Linked DNA regions of Homo sapiens: region 2 is reported to be linked to region 1. The links are microRNA targets in miRTarBase. Many come from high-throughput screens and were not tested one by one. Region 1 holds a microRNA gene; the other region holds the end of a gene's coding sequence.

Region 1 (3,000 bases):
GTGAGCCGAGATCGCGGCATTGCACTCCAGCCTGGGCAACTGAGCAAGACACTGTTTCAAAAAAAAAAAAAAAAAGAGAAAAGAAAAGCACACATTTGGGATTGTTTCTGATATATAACTGTGGGTTTCACAGAAGTAGTTTTGGCTGCTAAAATAGAAAATGTTGATATTAGATGTTACTGTAGTACTATCAAGAGTAACTATTCACTACCACGATTATAACTGAGCAATTACATTTGGCAGACACTGAATTTAAAAAAAAAGTAGCGTTGTTAAGAACTGTTATATAGTGATCTTAGCTCATGGTTAACAAATTAAAAACTGCTTTGCTAATAAAAATTTGTAGAAAATTGGTGACATCTTAATAACTCATACCTAGGGATCTTTACACCAACAATTTTGTTATGACAATTTCAGTAGTCTGAAAAGACCGTGTATTTGTTTAAAGGTAAAGTTTGCAGCTTTTAGAGGGAAAAAAATCTTTAAAAAATCGGTGGAGCTGCTTTCTTTACACCTTCCTTTTTGACAATTCTGTAAATTATACTCCACTGTACTGACAAATAACAAAGGCAAAGGTATCAGAGTCACAAGTTCAATTTTTAAAAAATTTACATTTCCAACCATGCACGAGTAAAACATAGGTTTCCTTACCTCATCATCATCATCAGAATCATTCCCAAACACTGATGGTTTTTGCAAAACAGGGTGCAACTGCTGTGTTTTCTTTGGCAAAATAAGCCCATACCTGCATATATTTTTTTTGAAATAGAAATTAAACCTTTATGTTTAAATGTTAACAAATACATCTACTACCTCTTCCACATGAAGCTACCAAATCAAAACATGTCATAAGCTTTATGAACACGTAACAGACTGTTTTTGCTTCTCAGTGATCTCAAAATTCTAACATGCCGTAAGATTCTATAATTACTACTCTAAGTGATCATTTGTGGACACGGGCCAAACTCGAATACCATTTTTATCAAAGAAGAGAAGTAAATGAAAAGTTCAGAAATGTTTTAAGATGGCGAAGTGACAGTAACATTTAAAAAAAAAAAAAAAAAACATGTGTAGTGGAAAGTTTAGTTCATGTCCACTAAAGATTTTAAAATGCTTTCAACTATCCTTGTGGTCTAAACAGTCAAGAAAATGGCTAGATTTTTTTTCCTACTGTGTACTTACACAGTTTCTAAGAACTGACTGGATAGTGTAACTCACGAAAATTTTTAAAAGATAACTGAGAAACCCAAGTAGCCATGGGGCAAGTTCGCATTACACTTTATTAAGATCATGTGCTTTGCCTCGGAGCATCTGAGAGAACCATCCCATCAGATCCAACTCCTTTAGTTTCTCACGTTTTGGCCTTTAAGATGCGGAGATCACGGGAGGCCGCATCAAAAGTAAGGATTACACATCAAAGGTAAAACTTTCAAGTACGTACAGTATTTGTCTCTTTTGCGGCAACGTATACCCCAATTTCCTATATGCCTACCCTTTTTCTGTGGCTTCTCAGAACAATATTCCTAAAACGAGAAGGAAGGGCGGGAATCAGGACTTGAGCTTCTGCCAAGGAGAACAAGGCCCTCTAAGGAAGCCAGGAACTGTCTCTCTTCACACTGCCCCTGAGAGCATCCAAGCGGGGAGAAACTCAAGCGCGGGTTAGGAAGCAAGACTGAGGGGCCTCAGACCGAGCTTTTGGAAAATAGAAAAGTCTCGCTCTCTGCCCCTCAGCCTAACTTCCTTTATTTCCTCACAAGTTTCTCCCTCAAACTTCGGGCTTCCATCCGGGAAAATGTACGGGGGAGGGGAATCTATGTTCCTCAGGACTTCTCGTTTTTTCCCGTCTCTACCCTTGACGACACAGTCCCTTCACTTCCAGCGCATTTAAAACTCCTCGGCCAAAGATACAGTCGCCGTAGTTTCTCATCCCCCAGCCTGACCCTAACTCCCGGATCACTCACTGCCTGCCCGGAATCGCCATCTTGCTCCCGTGTCCGCTGAACGTGGCCGACGCCTCCGTGACGCTGACGCCGATGTCGTCACGTAAACTCTCGCGCGGCTTTGGGTGGCCCGGATCCTGCTTGTCGGTTGAATCGCTGGTTTGAGTCACTTCTATGGTACTGGGAATCGGATCCAGTGACCTCTGTTTTGTTTCGGAGCCCACCGGCTGCCTCAAAATCTGTAGGAGAAAGGAATGACAACGTTCTAGGCCAGTTGTTCGCAGTGTGTGGTTCTGGGACCAGCGGCATCAGCAACACCGGAGATACTGTTAAAATGACAAATTCTCGGGCCCTACCCCAAACCTGCAGAATCAGAAACTTTGGAGTGAAGCGAGTTATCTGAATTTTAACCAGCGGGTAATTCTGATAAAGTTTGAAAACCACTGCCATGGCTATCGATATTCCCCCTACCCCCTTCCAAGTGTTCACTTTAACTGGTTCAGGATAATTAGGCGAAAAATGAAAATCTGTGTATTAATAATACCTTACATAGGACCAAAATTATTATTAAAAAAAAAATTTTTTTTTTGAGACGGAGTTTCGCTCTTGTTGCCCAGGCTAGAGTGCAAAGGCGCGAACTCGGTTACCTCAACCTCCGCCTCCCGGGTTCAAGCGATTCTCCTGCCTCAGCCTCCCGAGTAGCTGGGATTACAGGCATGTGCCACCACGCCCGGCTAAGTTTGTATTTTTAGTAGAGACGGGGTTTCTCCATGTTGGTCAGGCTGGTCTCGAACTCCCGACCTCGGGTGATCCGCCCGACTCGGCCTCCCAAATTGCTGGGATTACAGGCATGAGCCACCGCGCCCGGCCCAAGGACCAAAATTATTAATAATACTGTTCACGGGCCATTGGGTATAGGAATCAGGATCATATATGATACTTTTTTTTTTTTTTTTTTTTTTTTGAGACGTAGTCTCGCTCTTGTCGCCCAGGCTGGAGTGCAGTGGCATAATCTTGGCTCACTGCAACCTCCGCCTCCCAGGTTCAGGCGATTCTCCTG
Region 2 (3,000 bases), not on the chromosome of region 1:
ATGATCTTGGCATGTATACATGTATGAGTAACACACTAGTGTTAAGTCAATTTGCCACTCCACTCACAAGTACAGTATTTGGAGATAAGGCGTGTTTCAGTCTGTTACCCCCACGATGAGTTTCAGTTACTCAATGACAATCACTGGATGAGCTTTTAGCTATGGTGTCTCTAGTGTTTAAAGATACCTGCATGCTTTTAGTATAAAATGGGCCTAAAGCAAGGCAGGTAATCTACCTGGTACTTAACTGAAGAAACCAATCTATTCCAATGATAGACAAAAAAAAAGCGCCACATAGTACTTTTTGAGACACAGTACAACAGTCTTTAATGTATATATAAATATGCCTACATAACAGAGTTTGATAAGAGAAGTTTTGGCTATATACAACTCTGCATGTAATCAAACTCTAGAACATCAAATGCAACTCCACTGCATAGCTGTTTTGACAGAGCAACAGTTAAGCATAAAATAGCTTTGCACCTTATTATTTTGGAGCAAAATAAAAAATAACCACCACAAAAAAAATCTCTACAATAATTTAAACTAAAAATGTTGTTGAGGATAGGGTAAACAACAAAAAAGAAAATAATTTGATCCATATGTGATATTTGGCTGAAGATTAACAGTGTTAAGTCTAACCAACAGCGAGATAATTTTAATTTCCAAAGCATCTTCTACCGTTTATTAGCAATATTTGGATATTAAGGGAAGACATTTGCCTTAACAAAAACTATACTGAAAAAGACAAATGAATTGAAAAAGACAAAAATACTATCCAAGAATTACAATAAAAAATTTGGTTAAGTTGGAAAGCCTATCAAATTACCTTCCAAATTGCTTTTTTAAAGCAATTTGGTAAGTTTGAAAACCTAGCCCAAAACAAATTAATGACAAGTGGGTTTCTCCAGACGATTAATGAAGAAAAACATACTTATGTGAATCAATAAATATGTTATTTCTCTCAACCTCTTTTTATGCTTTGAAAACTTGTTCTAAAAAAGAACCATTGATACATCATTTTGACATTTCTATTTAGTCTGAAAATCTCTTTAAAAAAAAAAAAAAGGCAGTATTTTCCTCCCTGTACCATATCTTTCTCGTAACTATAACTGAGCTTTGTCCAGAATCAGAGACAGTTTTTCTAGAAAAAGCCAATGATCAGTATACAAGATACAGTATTTTCCTACAGATTCTCTCTGGCAAGAGAACATGACAATATAAATCAAATAAATTTAATACAATAAAATAATGTAACTCAAACTGCTCATTTAATCCCCTTTTTGTCTGATTCTATATTAGCTGATTTCTATTCTTAAAGCTTAAATTAGGGGTCAAAATCAGAGCCTAGTTAAAAAAGAGACAAAGAGAACAGTAGTTTAGTAAAAGTAAATTCAATAACACAGTTAAAATTAATTGGGAAAGTTTTAATAAGCATTCAAATGTACTTTACATTGATAATTGCAATATTGAATTTTGTAAAACTTTAAATATTTTCCTTAAAAAAGGTTAGTGATTTTTTTATTATTTTTGGGAAATGTGGCGATCCAACGATTATAGCATTAATGCAACCATTCCAGGTCCCTAAGGTTGAGTTAACATTAATATGTAAGTAAGTGTTCGCATTTCATGTCTACAATAAGGTAGATTGTGAACTTCCCGTATCTCTGAATTTTAGCAAAAATTCCATGAGATAATTTACAGTAATGTCAAATTTTTGGAGTGCAAACTCATACTCTACATTTGGATCACTTTTTTGCTTTGAGTTACCTGACTTGAGAATACAAGGCAATTTTTCTTTCCTAAATCCTTGGAAAAATATTTTTGCAGTAAGTCTTGTGTCTCCTTTTTTTTTTTTTTTTGAGACAGAGTCTCACCCTGTCACCCAGGCTGGATGGAGTGCAGTGGTGTGATCTCGGCTCACTGCAAGCTCCGCCTCCTGGGTTCACACTTCTCCTGCCTCAGCCTCCTGAGTAGCTGGGACTACAGGCGCCCGCCACCACGCCCAGCTAATTTTTTTTGTAGTTTTAGTAGAGTCGGGGTTTCACCGTGTTAACCAGGATGGTCTCGATCTCCTGCCCTTGTGATCCGCCCGCCTCGGCCTCCCAAAGTGCTGGGATTACAGGCGTGAGCTACCACGCCCGGCCGTCTTGTGTCTTCTTTACTGTGACTGGGTCGTTTTTAAGAAAGGTTATCAGCTTTGTGTTTGGTTTCCCACAGTTGATAAAAATCTATCAAAAACATTATAATTTGCAAGGAAAAAGGTTTTTCAATGGCTGCAGGAACCAGAAAGAAATAGCATTTCTTATCTGTATAAACACAAACATTTAAAGCTAGTCACACCGCAGGTAAATCCAATATAGTATGCAAAAGTTCTATAAAAATGAACAAGAGATACACGTTTACTTTCATTGCTCCAACAGTCAAATGTAAATCTGCATGAGAGTTGCGCTGCAGCAGTTTGCTGGTCCAATTTAAGAGTTCAAGGTCCTTTTTGTACATCTGGCCCACTGATGTCCACATCCCAGATAAATTTTCAAAAGACGGAAATCAGGGCAAAGACTCCATATAACAAAGCGCAAGGATATGCTACTAAAAGTTGCTGTCCTTCCATGGCTAATGCAGAAATAAATATTTTGGAAGCAGAAAAACTACACCATCCAATAATCCCAGCAGTGAGAATGATTCCTACCATTCCTCTGTAAACAACAAGGAAAAAGGGGGGAGAAGAAAAAAAAGCAGATGAGATTAGTTATGTAAGAATACTACAATAACCTATTCTAAAGCATTTTAAATTTACATTTTAAATCTGCAAGTAGACATATGCAAAAATAATCAGGATTTTTTTTTTCAAATGCTAAAATGTACCTCACAGTAAATTCAATGATGGTGAATCATTTCATGGGATAAACAGCTTTTTTAGAACTATGTTTTACTTTTTAAAAATATAAGGTCTCTCATTCTTGGCACTACTGACATTTGGGCTGGATGCTATCTTTG

What was found. The annotated mature microRNA hsa-miR-423-3p reads AGCUCGGUCUGAGGCCCCUCAGU and lies in region 1 at 1,672-1,694, opposite strand. An mRNA with a match to its seed (bases 2 to 7 or 8) in the 3' UTR can be bound and repressed. Matches are read on the target gene's strand: a 7mer-m8 pairs with bases 2 to 8, a 7mer-A1 pairs with bases 2 to 7 and ends in A, and an 8mer does both.
Region 2: miRTarBase lists YIPF5 as a target of hsa-miR-423-3p. The part of its 3' UTR that is shown has no 7-base or 8-base seed match.

The regions. Positions count from the first base shown.
Region 1 is chr17:30,115,825-30,118,824 of GRCh38, reverse strand. MIR423 (microRNA 423) reads right to left here and starts at 1,746; the gene lies at 1,653-1,746. It overlaps NSRP1 (nuclear speckle splicing regulatory protein 1), which reads right to left and starts at 2,009. Exons shown (of 7, transcript NM_032141.4): 1 at 1,962-2,009; 2 at 652-745. The coding sequence starts at 1,981. It overlaps MIR3184 (microRNA 3184), which reads left to right and starts at 1,665; the gene lies at 1,665-1,739. RefSeq lists silencers at 1,577-1,646, 1,583-2,184 and enhancers at 1,897-1,996, 2,027-2,126, 2,147-2,266, 1,299-2,498.
Region 2 is chr5:144,157,861-144,160,860 of GRCh38, forward strand. YIPF5 (Yip1 domain family member 5) reads right to left here. Exons shown (of 6, transcript NM_030799.9): 6 at 302-2,699. The coding sequence ends at 2,537. Among named protein-coding and RNA genes, the nearest start is that of YIPF5, 11 kb to the right of the region's middle.